3 separate regions of the Homo sapiens genome follow, and regions 1 and 2 are each linked to region 3. Evidence: fine-mapped expression QTL. A gene starts in region 3. Each other region holds a variant in brackets. All regions are shown on one strand. Distances are between the middles of the regions.

Region 1 (5,859 bases), 140 kb before region 3:
TGGTCGGGTGCAATGGCTCATGCCTGTAATCCCAGCACTTTGGGAGGCCGAGGTGGGTGGATCGCCTGAGGTCAGGAGTTCGAGACCGGCCTGGCCAACATGGTGAAACCCCGTCACTACTAAAAATACAAAAATTAGCTGGGCATGGTGGCACACACTTGTAGTCCCAGCTACTCAGGAGGCTGAGGCATGAGAATTGCTTGAACCCAGAAGGTGGAGGTTGCAGTGAGCCAAGATGGTGCCACTACACTCCAGTCTGAGTAACAGAGCGAGACTCGGTCTCAAAAAAAAAAAAAAAAAAAAGGTCACAGCTAACAGTTCGGGATATGGGGCCACAGACAGAAGGTGGTACAAAATAAAGGGGAAGTGGCATTTCATCGGCAGCAGGAGAAGCCTTGGGGAATGAAGTGGAACTAAGCACTTGAAAACCACAGACATCTTCCCTCAAAAAAAAAAAAAAAAAGTGGTTAAATGAAGGGGGAGGTGAAGGGGGAGGGACACCAACCCAAATTCTGATCCATGGCTTCTTAACAAATAATGCTTAACATCTGACACTGTTTTTAAATATAACTTTGCAACAAGATGGTTCTTGCTTTTTTATTTCTATTCCTGGAATTTCTCCTCCCCTCCTTTCTCCTCCTCCACAACTCATCTTTTTCTATTGAAGGCCATGTCTCTCTCTCTCCCCTCTTTCCCTTTGCCAGTCTCTCTGCTCTGCTCCTGCCATGCCTCTGCCTCTCTCCTCCATGGCTCCAAATCCCTCTCCCTCCTTTCTCTCCAGGTCTTCTGCCTTGTCCGTCCCTCTGTCTGTTAGCAACTCGACCTCCAGCCAAAGTCACTGAGAGATGAGAGATCTTGAGGGACTCAAAAGGGACAGGTTGAACACAATGAAGACCCAGGATTCCAAATGACCCCCAGAGAGACTGGATCCATCCGAAGGGCTTGTGAGGGTTCCGTGATCACTCCGACATGGCCCACGGAGTGTTTTATTCCAAGAAGCTCTGTCCCATCTCAGAATCAACCACACGTCCTGGGCCATCTCAACATGTGGGCAGTTACCTCAGAAGGCTTCAGGCCTGGCTAGATATAGTAGTTTGGCCAGATTTCCTAATCTCCCAAAGCCACAGAACAGAGCCCTGTGCACCCCATCCCTACCCACCCTCCACCTTCCTGCCCGTGTCCCAGCACGGGGCAAGGAGCCAAGCAGCGGAGCAGGGGGACACACAGGCTGGGGGAGAGACAGACACCACCTGTCTCCTGTAGTGTCTGCCACCTGCTCCACATCCACTGCAAACCCTCCCTCACTCCCCCACATACTCCCATCCTGATCATTTCTCTCACTGTCTCAGCTCAGCCCTCTCACTGGGGCAAGAGAAGAAAGAATCAGATCCCTGAGCCACACTTTTTGGGTCTGGAGTACAAGGTAGGGTCTAAGCCAAAAAAGAAAAGAAAAGAAAGACTCCTGGTTAAAAAGAGTTCTCTGCTTCTTTTATGAGATCCATTATGTTCTACCTGGAATTACATCTTTTCTGGTACAAGTATCGTCTCCTTTGCTAGGCTGTAAGAATCTTCTGGCAGAGCAATCTTTGGATTTATTTTTCTCCTGAGTCCTATCATCACTTCTAGCACCTGGGTTTTTCAAGCTTCCAATAAATTAGATTCAAAATAAATCCTACAAGTTGCTAGTGATTTGAGTTGTGTTGACTGGTACTAATATCCTTGCTAATCATGGTATGAGGGAAAAACTGCTTAATTGCTTAATTCCACATCTCTGTGTTGACAATTTTCTTAGTTTTATACCAGGGGTCAACCAACTACAGCCTGCAGGCCAATTCAGGCTCACTGCCAGGTTGTGTACAGTCCTGCTAGCTTAGGGCAATTCATTTTCAAATAACTGTTAAAACTCAAAAGAAAGATAATACTTTGTAACATGTAAAAACTGTATGAAATTCAAGAGTTTTAGGGCCAGGCACGGTGGCTCACGCCTGTAATCCCAGCACTTCGGGAGCTGAGGTGGGTGGATCACCTGAGGTCACGAGTTCGAGACCAGTCTGGCCAACATGATGAAACCCCCGTCTCTACTAAAAATACAGAAAAAAATTAGCCAGGCATGGTGGTTGACTGTAATCCCAGCTACTTGGGGGGCTGAGGCAGGACAATTGCTTGAACCCAGGAGGCGGAGATTGCAGTGAGCCGAGACTGCACCATTGCACTCCAGCCTCGGCAACAAGAGCAAAGCTCTGTCTCAAAAAAAAAAAAAAAAAAAAAGAAATTCAAGAGTTTTAGTGGAACACACACACACGTGGACACCTCTGCAACCTTTGGGGAATTGACCTCTGCCTTCCCTTTCCTGATCACAAAATTGAAATAACGTGATAAAGGAAATAATGATAGGAAATAAAGCCCTATCTCAAGGGCTGTTTTAAGGCATGAATGAGCAAATGAGTATAACATGTGTAGAACAGTGCCCACTGTTTGTGAACACACCATAAACGTTCTTATCTCCATTGCTGTTATTTTTTCTACAGGTGGACCTTCAGGGGATCAAAGCAAAGTTCCAAGAGAAGTATCAGAAGTCTCTCTCTGACATGGTTCGCTCAGATACCTCCGGGGACTTCCGGAAACTGCTAGTAGCCCTCTTGCACTGAGCCAAGCCAGGGCAATAGGAACACAGGGTGGAACC[G/A]CCTTTGTCAAGAGCACATTCCAAATCAAACTTGCAAATGAGACTCCCGCACGAAAACCCTTAAGAGTCCCGGATTACTTTCTTGGCAGCTTAAGTGGCGCAGCCAGGCCAAGCTGTGTAAGTTAAGGGCAGTAACGTTAAGATGCGTGGGCAGGGCACCTTGAACTCTGGCTTAGCAAGCATCTAGGCTGCCTCTTCACTTTCTTTTAGCATGGTAACTGGATGTTTTCTAAACACTAATGAAATCAGCAGTTGATGAAAAAACTATGCATTTGTAATGGCACATTTAGAAGGATATGCATCACACAAGTAAGGTACAGGAAAGACAAAATTAAACAATTTATTAATTTTCCTTCTGTGTGTTCAATTTGAAAGCCTCATTGTTAATTAAAGTTGTGGATTATGCCTCTATCAGCTGCTTTTCCAAAGATTGTCTTGATAAGTTTGGGCTCTTCTCTGGGAAATGTATGACTTGTGAAATTCAAACCTACATTTTTTAGTGGTCACTAATCAAGGCTAGTCATAAGGAAACAATTCACTTGCTTTTGTAAACTGTAACTAAGGGTAAAATTCCCTAATCTGCTACCTGGTTTAACTGGGTTTTCTTCTCTAGACATTTGACCCACTTGAGTCTTCCCTCTGATCTTCAAATACAATTAAGCTGAGCAAAGTGCCAACAAGATCAAGATCAATGGTCTACCTCTGAAGTGAATTGGTTCCACACCAATAGATTCTGTGTTCCAAAACTTTAGTCTCATAGCCACGTGTTGCTAGACATAGAGGGATCTGTCAAGAGAACCTGGACACTTTGGCCCAATAATCATAGTTGTCATTCATTGGCTGATTATTTGTGCCTGACACTGAGTAGTCCAATTTCATTCTTAATCCTCCCCACAGCTCTATGTGGTTAATATTACTCCCAATTATCAGTTGAGGAAACTGACACATTAAGTAACCTATCTAAATTCATTTACAAGTGCTGTTTTCACACTGCTATAATTACCGGTAAAAAATTACCAAGACTGGGTAATTTATAAAGAAAAGAGGTTTAAGTGACTCACAGTTCCGCAGGGCTGGGGAGGCCTCAGGAAACTTACAATCATGGTGGAAGGGGAGGAGGCACGTCTTATGTGGCAGCAGGAAAGAAAGAGTGGTGAGCGAAGCGGAAAGAGCCCCTTATAAAACCATCAGATCTCATGAGAACTCCCTCACTGTGACGAGAACAGCATGGGGGACACAGACCCCATGATCTAATCACTCCCACCAGGTCTTTCCTGGGGATTACAATTGACACATGAGGATTACAATTTGTGATGAGATTTGGGTGGTGACATAGAGCCAAACCATGTCAACTAGCATTTCAATCCAGGGCTGGCTGACACCAGGAATCATGCTACTAACTGCCTTAATTGGAAAAATCAGTTGAAGTACATGGGAATGGGTCTGTATTCATTCATCTGCTTAGTTCCCTACTATCTGCCAATCACTGTGGTGTGCTCTGAGGATACAAAGACAAGTAGAACACTGACTCCCCTTGGGGCAGTTCATTCCCAGGTCAATAATGTCTCTTTTATTCAATAGAATGCTGTAAGTGCATTAATAAGAGCAGTATATTTGTTCATTTTCACACTGTTCATTTTCACACTGCAGTAAAGAACTACCTGAGACTGGGTAATTTATAAAGAAAACGGGTTTAATTGACTCACATTTCCACCTGGCTGGGGAGGTCTCAGGAAACTTACAATCATGGCAAAAGGTAAAGGGGAAGCAAAGCACGTGTTACATGGTGGCAGGAGAGATGGGGGAGGGGAAGTGCCACACTTTTAAACCATCAGATCTTGTGAGAACTCACTCACTATCATAAGAACAGCATGGGGGAAACTCCCCCCATGATCTAATCACCTCCCAGCAGGTCCCTCCCTCGACACATGGGGATTACAATTCAAGATGAGATTTGGATGGGGACACAGAGCCAAACCATATCAAGCAGGTAAAGGGCTCTACCTATGAGTAAGAAGAGAGAACACACAGCTCTGCATGGGGAACTGGGGAACACTTCCCAGAGATGCATTTGTGCTGGGTTTTAAAGAATGCATAGAAGCTCTCCAGAAAAATAAAAGAAGAAGGGCACAAGCAGAGGCTGGAGAAGCCTGAGTGGGCAGGGTGTGTTCAGGGAGAGGTGAAATCCATTCTCCTGGGGCACAGATGTGTGGAAAGAAAGGAATGGCCCTGGCAGGCAGGCAAAGCAGCTGTGAAAATAGGTTTGAACCACATCAGCCATGGTTCTGCCTGCCAAGCATGAGTTTGGTCCTCTGGGCAACAGCAGTCATTGGAGATGTTTAAGCGAAGAACATGATCACATCTGGGCTTTGGGAAATCACTTTAGTGGCTGCTAGACATAGAGGGATCTGTCAACAGAACCTGAACACCTTGGTCCAATAATCATAGTTATCCTTCATTGGCTGATTATTTGTGCCTGACACTACTAAGTAGCACAATCTCATTCACACCATTTGGGGTGTGATCAACATATAACAAACAGCCCAATCAGTTAAGGATAGATGCCATAATTGTCTTTTTAGTTGCTACAAAACAGTGATGGACATATTAAGAAGTTATGTTAACATCAGTGTCTTCCACATCCTGGTTTATCTACTTAATAGTCATTGCCATCATTATAAACTTTAATACATAAAAAATTATTTTCTAGAACCAAGCTCAGTGACAAAACGTATTTGTATTTACCTATTTGTTGCCAAAGCTGGTCTTTGCTTTTATAACCAGAAACAAAACAACCAGTTTTTGGGATCTGAGCTCATGGTAAGGACAGAAAAACAAATCAATGGACTGAAAAGAGATCTATTAAAAACAGACACAATTTGAGATTGTTGATGGCCATAATTCACACAGAGACAAGCAAGAAGATATTTTACAGGTGGAGAAACTGAGGCTGATAAGATGGAGAAGCCAGGTCATTTACTCAAGATCACCCACATAAAGTACCAGGGCCAGAATTCAACCCAAGTCCTTCTGCCTCTAATGCCCGTGCTCTTCGCCAGACTAGCTCATGGTCCATGAGTGCTTTTGTCTAAAATTTTGCTGAGTGAGACATCAAGGTTCCTTTCTGTGGCTGCTCAATATTGCTCATCACTTGCAAGCTGGAGCCAGTTTCTAGG
Region 2 (5,000 bases), 21 kb after region 3:
CTAGTGTTGCCATAGCCACTTGAGAATCGTGTCAGACCTAGCCCCTGCTTGTCAGGTACTTCTGGGCTACTCTGGGGGACAAAGTATAACTATTCAAATGGCAAGTTGAATTAGTACAGTCTAGGAGCCTTGGAGATGGCTTCTTGAAAGAGGTAGAACCTGAAATTCTCCTTCCTTGAGGGACGGCCAGGATTTGGCCAGATGGAAAGGCAAGTGGAAGGCTTTGCAGGGACAAGCAATGTAAGCAGAACCTAGAAATGGGAAGGAACAAAAGTGAAGGGGAATGATTGTGGGTCAGGGGCCAATGGCGATGTGACATTCAGCCTATAGAACCATAGGGCAGAGGTGACAGTTGCTGGAATAGATGGGAGCTCAGTTTAAGGAAGATCGCCAAGCCAGACATCGCTGTTAGATGGATGTAATGGGGAATAAACTGCCATTGTCAACTCAAAAGTAACCAGGGCCAGGTGTGGGGGCTCACACCTGTAATCCCAATACTTTGGGAGGCCGAGGCAGGTGGATTACTTGAGGTGAGGAGTTTGAGACCAGCCTAGCCAACATGGTGAAACACCGTCTCTCTTAAAAATACAAAAATCAGCCGGACATGGTGGCAGGCACTTGTAGTCCCAGCTACTCAGAAGGCTGAGGCAGGAGAATCATTTGAACCCAAAAGGCAGAGGTTGCAGTGAGCCAGCTCACACTACTGCACTCCAGCCTGGGCAGCAGAGTGAGACTCCATCTCAAAAAAAAAAAAAAAAAAAAAAGTAACCAGGATGGGTAAAAGATGAAGAGGCAAGTCTCTCTCTGCTGAGAATACAATTAATGCATGTAAACTTGGCTCTCCTTATTATTTTAACTCCCTCTGTTAAAAGAGAGCTGTTTCACTTGCAAATAATATTTATCCAATCTTGACATGCCTGCAGATTATTAATGTCGCTGAAATTTTTTTCTCTTTCAACCTGTCAGTGTTCAAGCTCAAAGTCAGAACAAAACTTTCCAGGTTTTTTATCTGTGTTATTCATTGAGTAAATAAGGGTCTTGGAAGTACCCAGCACTCAGAGCAGAGAGAGACACTGCCTAGTCTAACTAAAGGTTTATTATAGAAGACGCAACCTTCCTATAGATGGGCACCCAACTTGGGTATTGAGCATGTGAGGCATGGCAAGGCTGCTTGAGGCTGGGACTCGTTTCTGCCTTTGATAACTCTGGCAGATTTTCCAGTCAGACACATACTTCATACTGTAACACCCCACTGTTATACGAGATAAGGAATTTGGGGATAAATTGTGTTCTCATTCTTAACAATTCTGTATGAGAATGATAGAGCATGCTTAGGCAGCAGCCTTGTGGTTTTGTCCTTTTAAACTAACAGGTAGAGGAAGCTGCTATTTTTGTTGATGCTTCTGAAAGCCCAAGTGTTTACTGTCCCTCCAGATCTCAGGCTGCTTGCCCTTCTGGAAAGTGTTTGAGATATGTTTGCATTATAAATAATTTACTCCTAGGCCCATGCCACTCCTGGGGCATCAGTCTGGAACTAGTCTCCATATAGATATCAGCCTGACCAGCCAGATGGTCCACCATTGACCTTGATGTGTCATTTGGCCATCATGAGCCACCTCATCTATAGCAGGAGGAAATTCGGGTAAACTGTTTCCTGAGTCCCTTCCAGCTACAACACTCTTTGATTCAAAAAGACAAATGTATGTTTTAAAAAACACTATTTGTTGAGTGCTTACCATGTGCCAAGCTGGGGGTAGAGTGGGAAACAGGACAACACTTGCTGTCTTGAGGGTTCCATCCTAATTAGCCTATCAGCAAGTAAGTGAACAAGACCAATTCAGATATGCATAAATGCAACAATGAAGAACAATGAAACCATAGTAAGGTGAAGATGGCAACAGGGAGGTTTTTGCATAAGATGGCCAGGGAAGGGCCCTCTGAGCCCGGGGCAGGCCACGTTTGAACTGAGACCTGAGGGATGGGATGGAGCCGAGCATGTAAAGATGTGGCAGAGGCAAAGGCCCAGAGGTGAGAATAAGCTTGGCCTATTCGAGAGACGAATAACCTGTGTAGCCGGAGCAGAGTGAATTTGTGCAAAACTAGGCTGGAAAAGGGGTAGAAACCAGATCAGGGAGAACCTTGCCAGTCATGGTAAGGAGCTTGAGTTTTTTCCTAAGCGCAAGGAGAAGCCATTTGAGGATTTTAAGCAAAGAAGTAACGTGAACTGATGGATTTTTAAAACTATGAATGCTATGCTAAAATAAACTGTAGGGAAGAAGACGTAAGAAGCCTGCTCTTGATACGAGAGCAGTGAGATAAGAGGGAAATCTCTCTTCTGCCCATTCGTCTTGCACACACCACTTCAAACTTTGGTTGATATCCGCTCTGAGATTTGCTATACGATATTGCTTGCAACTAGATTTGTCTCCTATTCGTTGCCTCCAGAACTAGCATGAGCCAAAGCTGAAGGGCAGGATGTGGTTTCAGCATGCGGTGACCACCATCCCTCCCTCCAGTAGCTCAGAGCCATTCCTGGTACTG[C/T]ACGGCTCGTCACTGCAGATCATGCCGGATGCCCAGAGTGCCCACACGATAATGACACCACGGAATTCCAGAGGAGCCGAGAAGCCTCCTCCTCCTTCCCCTTCCCTCCCCCTGCCTCTCTTTAAACATAGCCACAAATTACTAGCACCTGGGCTAAAATTTGCCCAGTCAAAAACAAGCAGCCACTTCCAAACAAGACATTTTCCTCTGTTCTTTTTTTCTCTTGTGGCTAGGGGCAAAGAATCCAATTGGCTAAGTCATCCTGGTACACAGATTGCTAGATACAAACCTACTTTCCTAGGCACGCAGCTCTCTTAACACAAATAAAATCGATAAATTTGGGCTGTGCGCGATGGCTTACGCCTGTAATCCCAACACTTTGGGAGGCCAAAGCAGGCAGATCACCTGAGGTCAGGAGCTCAGGACCAACCTGGCCAACATGGTGAAACTCGATCTCTACTAAAAATACAAAAATTATCCAGGTGTGGTGGCGGGTGCCTGTAATCCCAGCTACTCAGAAGGCTGAGGCAGGAGAATCATTTCAACCTGGGAGGTGGAGGTTGCAATGAGCCGAAATCACGCCATTACACTCCAGCCTGGGCAACAGAGCAAGACTCTGTCTCAAAAATTAAAAAATTTAAAAATCGGTAAATTCTGCTCTCTTCACTACTAGTTCCATACATCACTACCTAGTAGTAGCTCTGGGCCTATAGAGTGATGCTGATGTGGAAAGTAGACTCTGTGGTTTACCCAAAGCAGTTGCCTCATCCTAAATGTGCTGGTAGCACTTTCTGAGCATTACAGTGCCCTTAATATTAAAAGTTGTTTACCAGTCACAACATATTATTATATAAAATTTCTTTTTTTTTTTTTTTTTTGAGATGGAGTCTTGCTCTGTCGCCCAGGCTGGAGTGCAGTGGTGTGATCTCAGCTCACTGCAAGCTCTGCCTCCCGGGTTCACGCCATTCTCCTGCCTCAGCCTCCTGAGTAGCTGGGACTACAGGCACCCGCCACCGCATCCGGCTAATTTTTTGTATTTTTAGTAGAGATGGGGTTTCACCATTAGCCAGGATGGTCTCGATCTCCTCACCTCGTGATCCGCCTGCCTCAGTCTCCCCAAGTGCTGGGATTACAGGCGTGAGCCGCCACGCCCAGCCCAATATTATATAAAATTTTCTAGACTCTGTTTCCCCAGAACATAACAATAAATGGTATTGCTCCCATTTTGGAGTAAAATTTGGCCCTCCATGCAAATTGATTGGCCTTGACAAACTGAAGTCCTGAAACTGTCAGAATATATGTTCTGCCAGGCACAGTGGCTCATGCCTGTAATCCCAGCACTTTGCGAGGCTGAAACACGAGGATCGCTTGATCCCACAAGTTCGAGGCCAGCCTGGGTAACTAGGAAGACCCTGTCTCTACAAATAGAAATAAAAAAAATTAGCCAGGCATAGTGCTGTGCCCCTGTGGTCCCAGCTACTTGGGAGGCTGAGGTGGGAAGATAGCTTGAGCCTCGGAGGTAAAGGCTACAGTGAGCCATGACTGTGCCACTGCACTCCAGCCTAGGTGACAGAGTGAGACTTTGTCTCAACAAAAAAAAAAGAAAATGTGTTCTCTGTTAGACATATCTGGGCTCAAGTCCTGGCTCCAGCATTTGCTACTGCTGGTATGGCTTTAGGTGAGTACTTCTCTGAGCCTCAATATCCTCAATGGTTAAATGGAGAAGCTATCTCACTGGGTTGCTGTAAAAGATAAACAAGATTACAAATGTATAGTGCTTAGCTGCAGTTGCTGACACATAGTAAGCACCCCATTGTTATTGTTATTGTTAGCAAAATAAGACTCCATGGTAGAAAAACTATGCAAGTCATAAAATGTATCAGCATTAACTTTTATCAACAGATAGGGTGCTATTAAATGTATCACCAACATAGTAAAATGACAGAAAGGAATATTACAGTGTGAAAGCATTTATTTATTTGTTTGACAACAGCTACAATTGAAATACAGCAATTCTGAAGGTCTTTAAATGGGTTGCACTTTGCCCTGTTAACTCACTATTTCCTGATTGGCAATAATTTTACTTGGTAATGCTCTGTATTATGGTAAAAGCTAACAATAATAATTTATCGAGTATATTCTTTGTAGCAGGCACAGTTATGAGTGCTATGTGAATACATTTAATCTTCACAGCAACTTTGAAGTAGGTACTATTACTGTGCATATTTTGAAGATGGGAAAACTGAGGCAGACAGTTTGCCTCTGGAGCCCTCACTCTTAAACTCTTATGATATATACCAGAAACTGTGACATAGCCCAGGTGCCAAATCTGGCCCTCCACCTGCTTTTGTAAATAAAGTTTTATTGGAATACACCCATGCCCACTCATTTACACATTGTCTATAGCCATTTCGGTGCTATAGCTTCAGGGTGGAGTAGTTGCTACAGAGACCACGTGG
Region 3 (5,857 bases):
CTTTATCTTGAGGGGTCCAGCATTACAAAACTTCCCAGTAGAAACCATGTTTAAATAAGTGTCAGCTGAGCATGGTGGCTCATGCCTGTACTCCTAGTAGTTTGGGAGGCCAAGGCGGGAGGATCACTTGAGGCCAGAGTTTGAGACCAGCCCGAGCAACATAGCAAGACCCCATCTCTCCAAAAAAAAAATGTTTTAATCAACCAGGCATGGTGGTGCACGCCTGTTGTCTTAGCTGCTCAGGAGGCTGAGGCAGGAGAATCACTTGAGCTCAAGAGTTCAAGGCTGCAGTGAGCCATGATTGCACCGGTACACTCTAGCCTGGGTGATAGAGCAAGACTCTGTTTCAAAAAAAAAAAAGAAGTCTCAAATTAGATTTTTTTATGGTAAGAGAAATCTGAAATAGTCAATCACACTTCAGAAGAAGCCTGCATTAAGATATGATAGCAACAATTCTGTTTGTTTGTTTTAAGGAACAGAAAGCGGAAGGACTAGAGACAAACACTGAGGCTTCCTAAGATTAGTTATTAGACAAAAAGACAAGGACAAAAATAATTGTAATTTCCTATTTGTGCTTGAATTTTAGAAGTTAAAGAAACTTTCACCAACTTTGAGCCACTCAACCCTTTATAGTAGTCAGCTATCGACACAATAATGCTGTGTAACAGTAAATCACAAAAATCTCAGTGGCATCAACAAGACACATTTATTTCTTGCTAACACATCTGTGAGGTCAACGGGAGTGTCTGCTCCATGTGTCACATCCTGGGACACACGGATGTCACTCAAACCACTCCAGGAGCAGTGGCTACACAGGGTATGCTCTTTTCATGGAGCAGGTGAACACACAAAACATCAAGACCAACCAGGCAAGTACATACATCAGATCCTCTGCTCACATCACATCCATCAGCATCCCCTTGGCTAAAGCCAGTCATATGGCCAAGCCCATTGTCAAGAATTAGAAAAATACACATCACCAAAAAGTGTGGGCACATGACGCTACTGGAAAGGAGGGAAGAATGGGTACTAATAATTCAATCTACCACAGCTTTTAAACCATCCTGAAAGGTAGGCATTATTGGCTCCATTTTTTCTTGACAGTTAAGTAAATGGGGCCCTAAGAGTTTAAGTCATTCATCCAAGGGAGGACAGGTAGTATGCTGCTCCAGCAGAATTAGAATTCAAAACTTCTACCTTCTGGCCCTCTGTGGTCTCTACAGGTATGTAGCCAGCTTACTAATACATAACTAACCCACATTGTTCATAATCACATCCCAGGCGGGCATGGTGGCTCACGCCTGTAATCCCAACACTTTGGGAGGCCAAGGAAGGAGGATCACTTGAGCCCAGGAGTTTAAGACTAGCCTGGGCAAGATAGCAAAACCCTATCTCTACAAAAAATATAAAAAATTAGCCTGGTGCAGTGGTGAGTGCCTGTAGTCTCAGCTACTGGAGACTGGGGCCGAGGTGGGAGGATGGCTTGAGCTGGGGAGGCTGAGGCTACAGTGAGCCATGATCACTCACTCTAGCCTGAGTGACACAATGAGACCCTGTCTCAAAAATAATAATAATAATAATCACATCCCTTAATTATGCAGATACCAATTCCCTCCAACAGAGACCAGACCCAACACTGCCTCATTTGTTAGCACCATCACAGTGTTTAACATTTGTTTGGGACTTCTTCAATGTTTTTACAAGCTTTTTTTTTACTATTACTACACTAATAAATTATTTACGGTGGGAAATCTAAATCAGAAAGCTCTGGCTTCTTGAAAACAAACTTTATTAAAAACGTCTTCCCAGTCCAACATGTAGCCTCATAGGGCACACACAATTTCTTTGCCTGAGCCTTAAAGATTACACCGAGTCAGTGGACTAGATGATATTGATGGCTGCAGAGAAAGAAGAATGGAAGAATGAAGTTTGAAGCTAATGCTTGAGTATGGGATTTTTACTCTGCTGCTGCTGTCCTGTGCAAACTAATTGCCAAATAGACCAGGCTGTAAAGCATCATAACTAGAGGTGATGAAGGGCAAGAAGCCACCCTCATGCCAGCAGCCTCCCGTATCCATTCACTTATTCACACAAATAGTTGTTGAAGGCCTGCACTGGGCCTGGCAGGGTGCAGGGGCTGAAATGCCTCCGGAACAAGACAGACCAGCTCTCATGGAGTTCCCACTGCAGACAGGGGTAGATTGTTGTAACAACAGCAAAAAGTAAAAGCAAACAGGGTAGTTTCAGATTGTACTGTAGCATTGGCCCTGGGTACATCATTTAACCCGTCTCTTAGAGGGTTCGGGTAGGATAGGGGCGCTGTTCTTTTTCTCCACTCCCAACCTGCGGGAGCCAGATACCTCCCAGGGCTTCCTCTCCTTCCCCTCCTTTGCTGCCCCAGGGGCAGGTCTGAAGGAGGACTGGTTAGTGACAGCTAAGGGGCCCGGAGGGCTGGGAGGCTGTCCCTCCTCCCCGCTCCAACCCCCGCGCGCTAGGGCGGGGTTGGGGCAGTGAGCGAGGTCAGGAGGCTGCGCCCCCTACTCCCCGCCCGGCGGGCGCGGTGCCGGCCCCAGCTCTGCGGACGGCCCGGGAGGCTGATCTGGCTGCGGAGGTCGATCCTGATAGCTCGGGGGCAGGAGGGGGGCTGGCCCTGCTCCTCACGCCCACCCCGCAGGGACCCAGACGCCCCTCCGGCCCCCTCCCTGCACCCCGTCAGCCCGGGAGCTGCAGGAGACCGGGGCGCATCTTTCCAAGCGCCGGGCCTCGCTCTGGGACAACGGTGTCCTGGGGGCGGGGAGGGCGCGCGGAGGTGCCAGGGGCGGCGGGGTACCCGGCCCGGCAGCACCGCTTCAAGTTTCCACCGGCGCGGTTGTGCAACCGGGAGGGGAGCGTGAGCCGCAGGCGCCTCGGAAAACAAGCCGAGCCCATAAACAAAGCCACGTGGCCTCCGGGCCGGGGGGCCGGGCTAAGAGCGGGCGGCTCTTCCGGCAACAAAGAGCTGCGGCCGGCTGCGGGGATAAATACTGCGGCAGCTACTGCCGCGCAGCACTCCCGGAGCCTGCAACGCTTGAGATCCTCTCCGCGCCCGCCACCCCGCAGGGTGCCCCGCGCCGTTCCCGCCGCCCCGCCGCCCCCGTCGCGGGCCCCTGCACCCCGAGCATCCGCCCCGGGTGGCACGTCCCCGAGCCCACCAGGCCGGCCCCGTCTCCCCATCCGTCTAGTCCGCTCGCGGTGCCATGCCATTCCTCGGGCAGGACTGGCGGTCCCCCGGGCAGAACTGGGTGAAGACGGCCGACGGCTGGAAGCGCTTCCTGGATGAGAAGAGCGGCAGTTTCGTGAGCGACCTCAGCAGGTGAGGGGACCCGCTACCAACTTCCAGCCCCCGCGAAACTGACCCGGGCTGGTCTGGGGGGCGCAGGGACGGCGAATGAGGGGCAGGCAGGGCTGGAGCGGGCTGAGGAGGGAGACCCTGACCCGGAGGGTGGGACTACGGGGCCCGATTTCTGCAGAGGTCTTCGGACCACCGGAGACAGGGAATTCGGTTTCTCTTATTGTTCAAGGTCAGTGTCTCCAAGTGGACACGACTCCTTACAGAACACCTGGTCCCTCTGAGAGTCTGATGACATTCGCGGATCGTGTCCCCAAACGTTCGCTCAAACTTAATCACACAGCTTTAGTGGTCCCTGCTTTAAGGACACCGGAGTCGCGCACTTTGCCCATGTGGGGGCGCGGGCGGGTGGGCTGAGCCCCTTCACCGCGGGGTGGCCCGGCTCCCAGCGCCCAAGCGCTGTGGACGCGACAGGTGACGGGATCCGACGAAGGTCCCGCCTGGAGCGCTTCCAGGCCCTGCCCAGGCACGGGCAACCACGAAGTGGCCGGGAGGATGAGTAACCAGGAAGGGACGGCCAGATGGTCCCTGGGGCAGCCGCTTACTGGGCGGACTTGCGAGCGGTGGAGGCTTGGGGCTGCAGAGGTGCAAAGGAGGGAAGGGGGCAGGGGATGAATCCCACAAGAGCTCTGCTTCTGGGAGGACAGGGCTCTTGCACCTGTTTCCTCGGTGGCCCTCTCGGTCGGTCTGCTTTGTATAGAGTGCACTCCGTTTCCAGGGGTGCCTGTCAGCTGCGAAAAGCCTGCCTGGCCCCGGTGAGCCTCTGGATTCGAGGCCTCACCTGAGCTCTGTGGTCTGGCGGGAAACCTGAGGTCCGCTGCGCTCCCTGCTCAGCTTGGCTAACGATGCCAGCGCCGGCTAGTACGCAAGGTAGCCTGGAATTTCTCAGCCCCTGACCTCGACAGTTGACTTTCAGAGACTCTCAGCATTTAGCCCGGTGAGCGGGGGCGATGAAAGTGATTCCAGAATGGACTGGTGCAGCCAGAGTCACCCTTGGGAGCCTTTTCCTGCCACCTTTGGTTAAAACCATGGGCCCCTGCACCCTTAAATTGACTTCAATGGAGAATTCTGTTTCTGGGCCAGGTTCCCGCTTACTGAGATTTACCAGTCGTTGCTTGGATGAAGCATTGGCAATAAATTTTGAGAAAACTATCAAGAAAATGTGGTTATTTTGGCAACTTGAACTCCCGTGCCTCCCATTTGTTTGTGATTTGTAATGCATCAAATTCCCATTGTCTCACAATGTAAAGAAAGACATTATTTAATTCTGGGGGTCTGTCCGGAGAGACTTGAGCGTATTAACCACCAGCATATAACCATTTACGTTGGAGTTACTTGGAGGCTGTCCCAGGGGAGTTTAGGGACCACCATAAGGAAATCTTATTTACGTAAAATCAAGTAATTTATTTACGGGAAAGTAAGACCAACTGCTATTGACAGACTATGTCTTTTATCGACTGGAGTTACCAATTATGCCTAAATTATTCTCCCTCAACAAAATGGGAACCTTCCTTCCTTCCTCCTTGTTCCTAAGGACAATGATCTAATATGTTGGTACTTTATTTCTGTATACAAGTTCAGGTTCTTTCTAGAAAAGTGCCGAAAGGGTCTGAAGAGTCATGTTAGAGCTGCTCACCCAAATATAATTGCAGGATGCTCCTCAGTGGAGAACAGATGATTGAGTTCAGCAGAAGATTTAAAATGTAGGGTCGTATTAATACTTACCCTACTCGGGAGGCTGAGGTGGGAGGATGGCTTGTGCTCAGAAGTTCAAGGCTGCAGCGAGTCATGACTGTGCCACTGCGCTCCAGCCTGGGCCACAGAGCGAGACCCTGTCTCTAAAAATAAATAAAAATTTAAAATTTGTTTTAAAATACCCTATACCGGCATCAGGAGAGAAACTGGTGTCACTCTCCTTTAGAAATAGTGGTATCTCTGTCTTCACAGTATGGAAGACCTGAAGATGGTCTTAACTTACCACAAAAGTTTAGACTGGGCTGGAATCAGGTGGTTTCCTGCACAGCCCCCCTCCCGTGTCCTGTTCATGAGCCTCTTTTTCTTCCCATTTCACACCTGAGCTGGAGCTGTCACATCCATCATCATTACCGCAAATAGTCATTGATATACTGACCACCTGTGGTCCTTTGAGTCAGCGTTTAGGAATCATTTGGTAGCCTCCTAGCAAAGCAGCTGGCTGTTTGTTTGCAGGGTATTTTTTTTTCCAGCAACTGTAAACAATCCCTTCCCTGCTTAGCATGAGAAGCCTGCAACTTCTTAAAAGCAGTTGGCCTTCTGTGGTCTGGGTTTGTCATCTCAAATATCCTCACTGTTTTTGGTCTTGGTGATGTTTCCCCGTGATGTCAGGTTTGGACTGCGTGCCTGCCTGCACAGGTGAAGCTGAATGCCTCTCCTGTTATGAGAAAACAAAAGGCAGGCCCTTAAGCGGGGAGGGACCGTGAAACAGAGAAC

Which allele goes with the higher level. Alleles are on the strand shown, and positions count from the first base shown. SD is a standard deviation of normalised expression in the study named. Not every link is listed here.
For the expression in fibroblasts of the gene that starts at base 3,045 in region 3, G is the high allele of the variant in region 1 and A is the other (small effect, 0.21 SD a copy in GTEx).

What was found. PIP is the estimated chance that this variant, and not a neighbour inherited with it, causes the effect.
Region 1: its variant is fine-mapped to the expression of FBXO32 in fibroblasts (GTEx, PIP above 0.99).
Region 2: its variant is fine-mapped to the expression of FBXO32 in whole blood (TOPMed, PIP above 0.99).

The regions. Positions count from the first base shown.
Region 1 is chr8:123,678,029-123,683,887 of GRCh38, reverse strand. ANXA13 (annexin A13) reads left to right here. Exons shown (of 11, transcript NM_004306.4): 11 at 2,529-3,094. The coding sequence ends at 2,648. Among named protein-coding and RNA genes, the nearest start is that of KLHL38, 27 kb to the right of the region's middle. The variant G/A (reference allele first, on the strand shown) is at 2,684.
Region 2 is chr8:123,517,970-123,522,969 of GRCh38, reverse strand. All of the region lies in intron 4 of FBXO32 (F-box protein 32), which reads left to right. Among named protein-coding and RNA genes, the nearest start is that of FBXO32, 21 kb to the left of the region's middle. The variant C/T (reference allele first, on the strand shown) is at 2,542.
Region 3 is chr8:123,538,394-123,544,250 of GRCh38, reverse strand. FBXO32 (F-box protein 32) reads left to right here and starts at 3,045. Exons shown (of 9, transcript NM_058229.4): 1 at 3,045-3,352. The coding sequence starts at 3,237. RefSeq lists silencers at 2,519-2,808, 2,899-3,008, 3,059-3,148.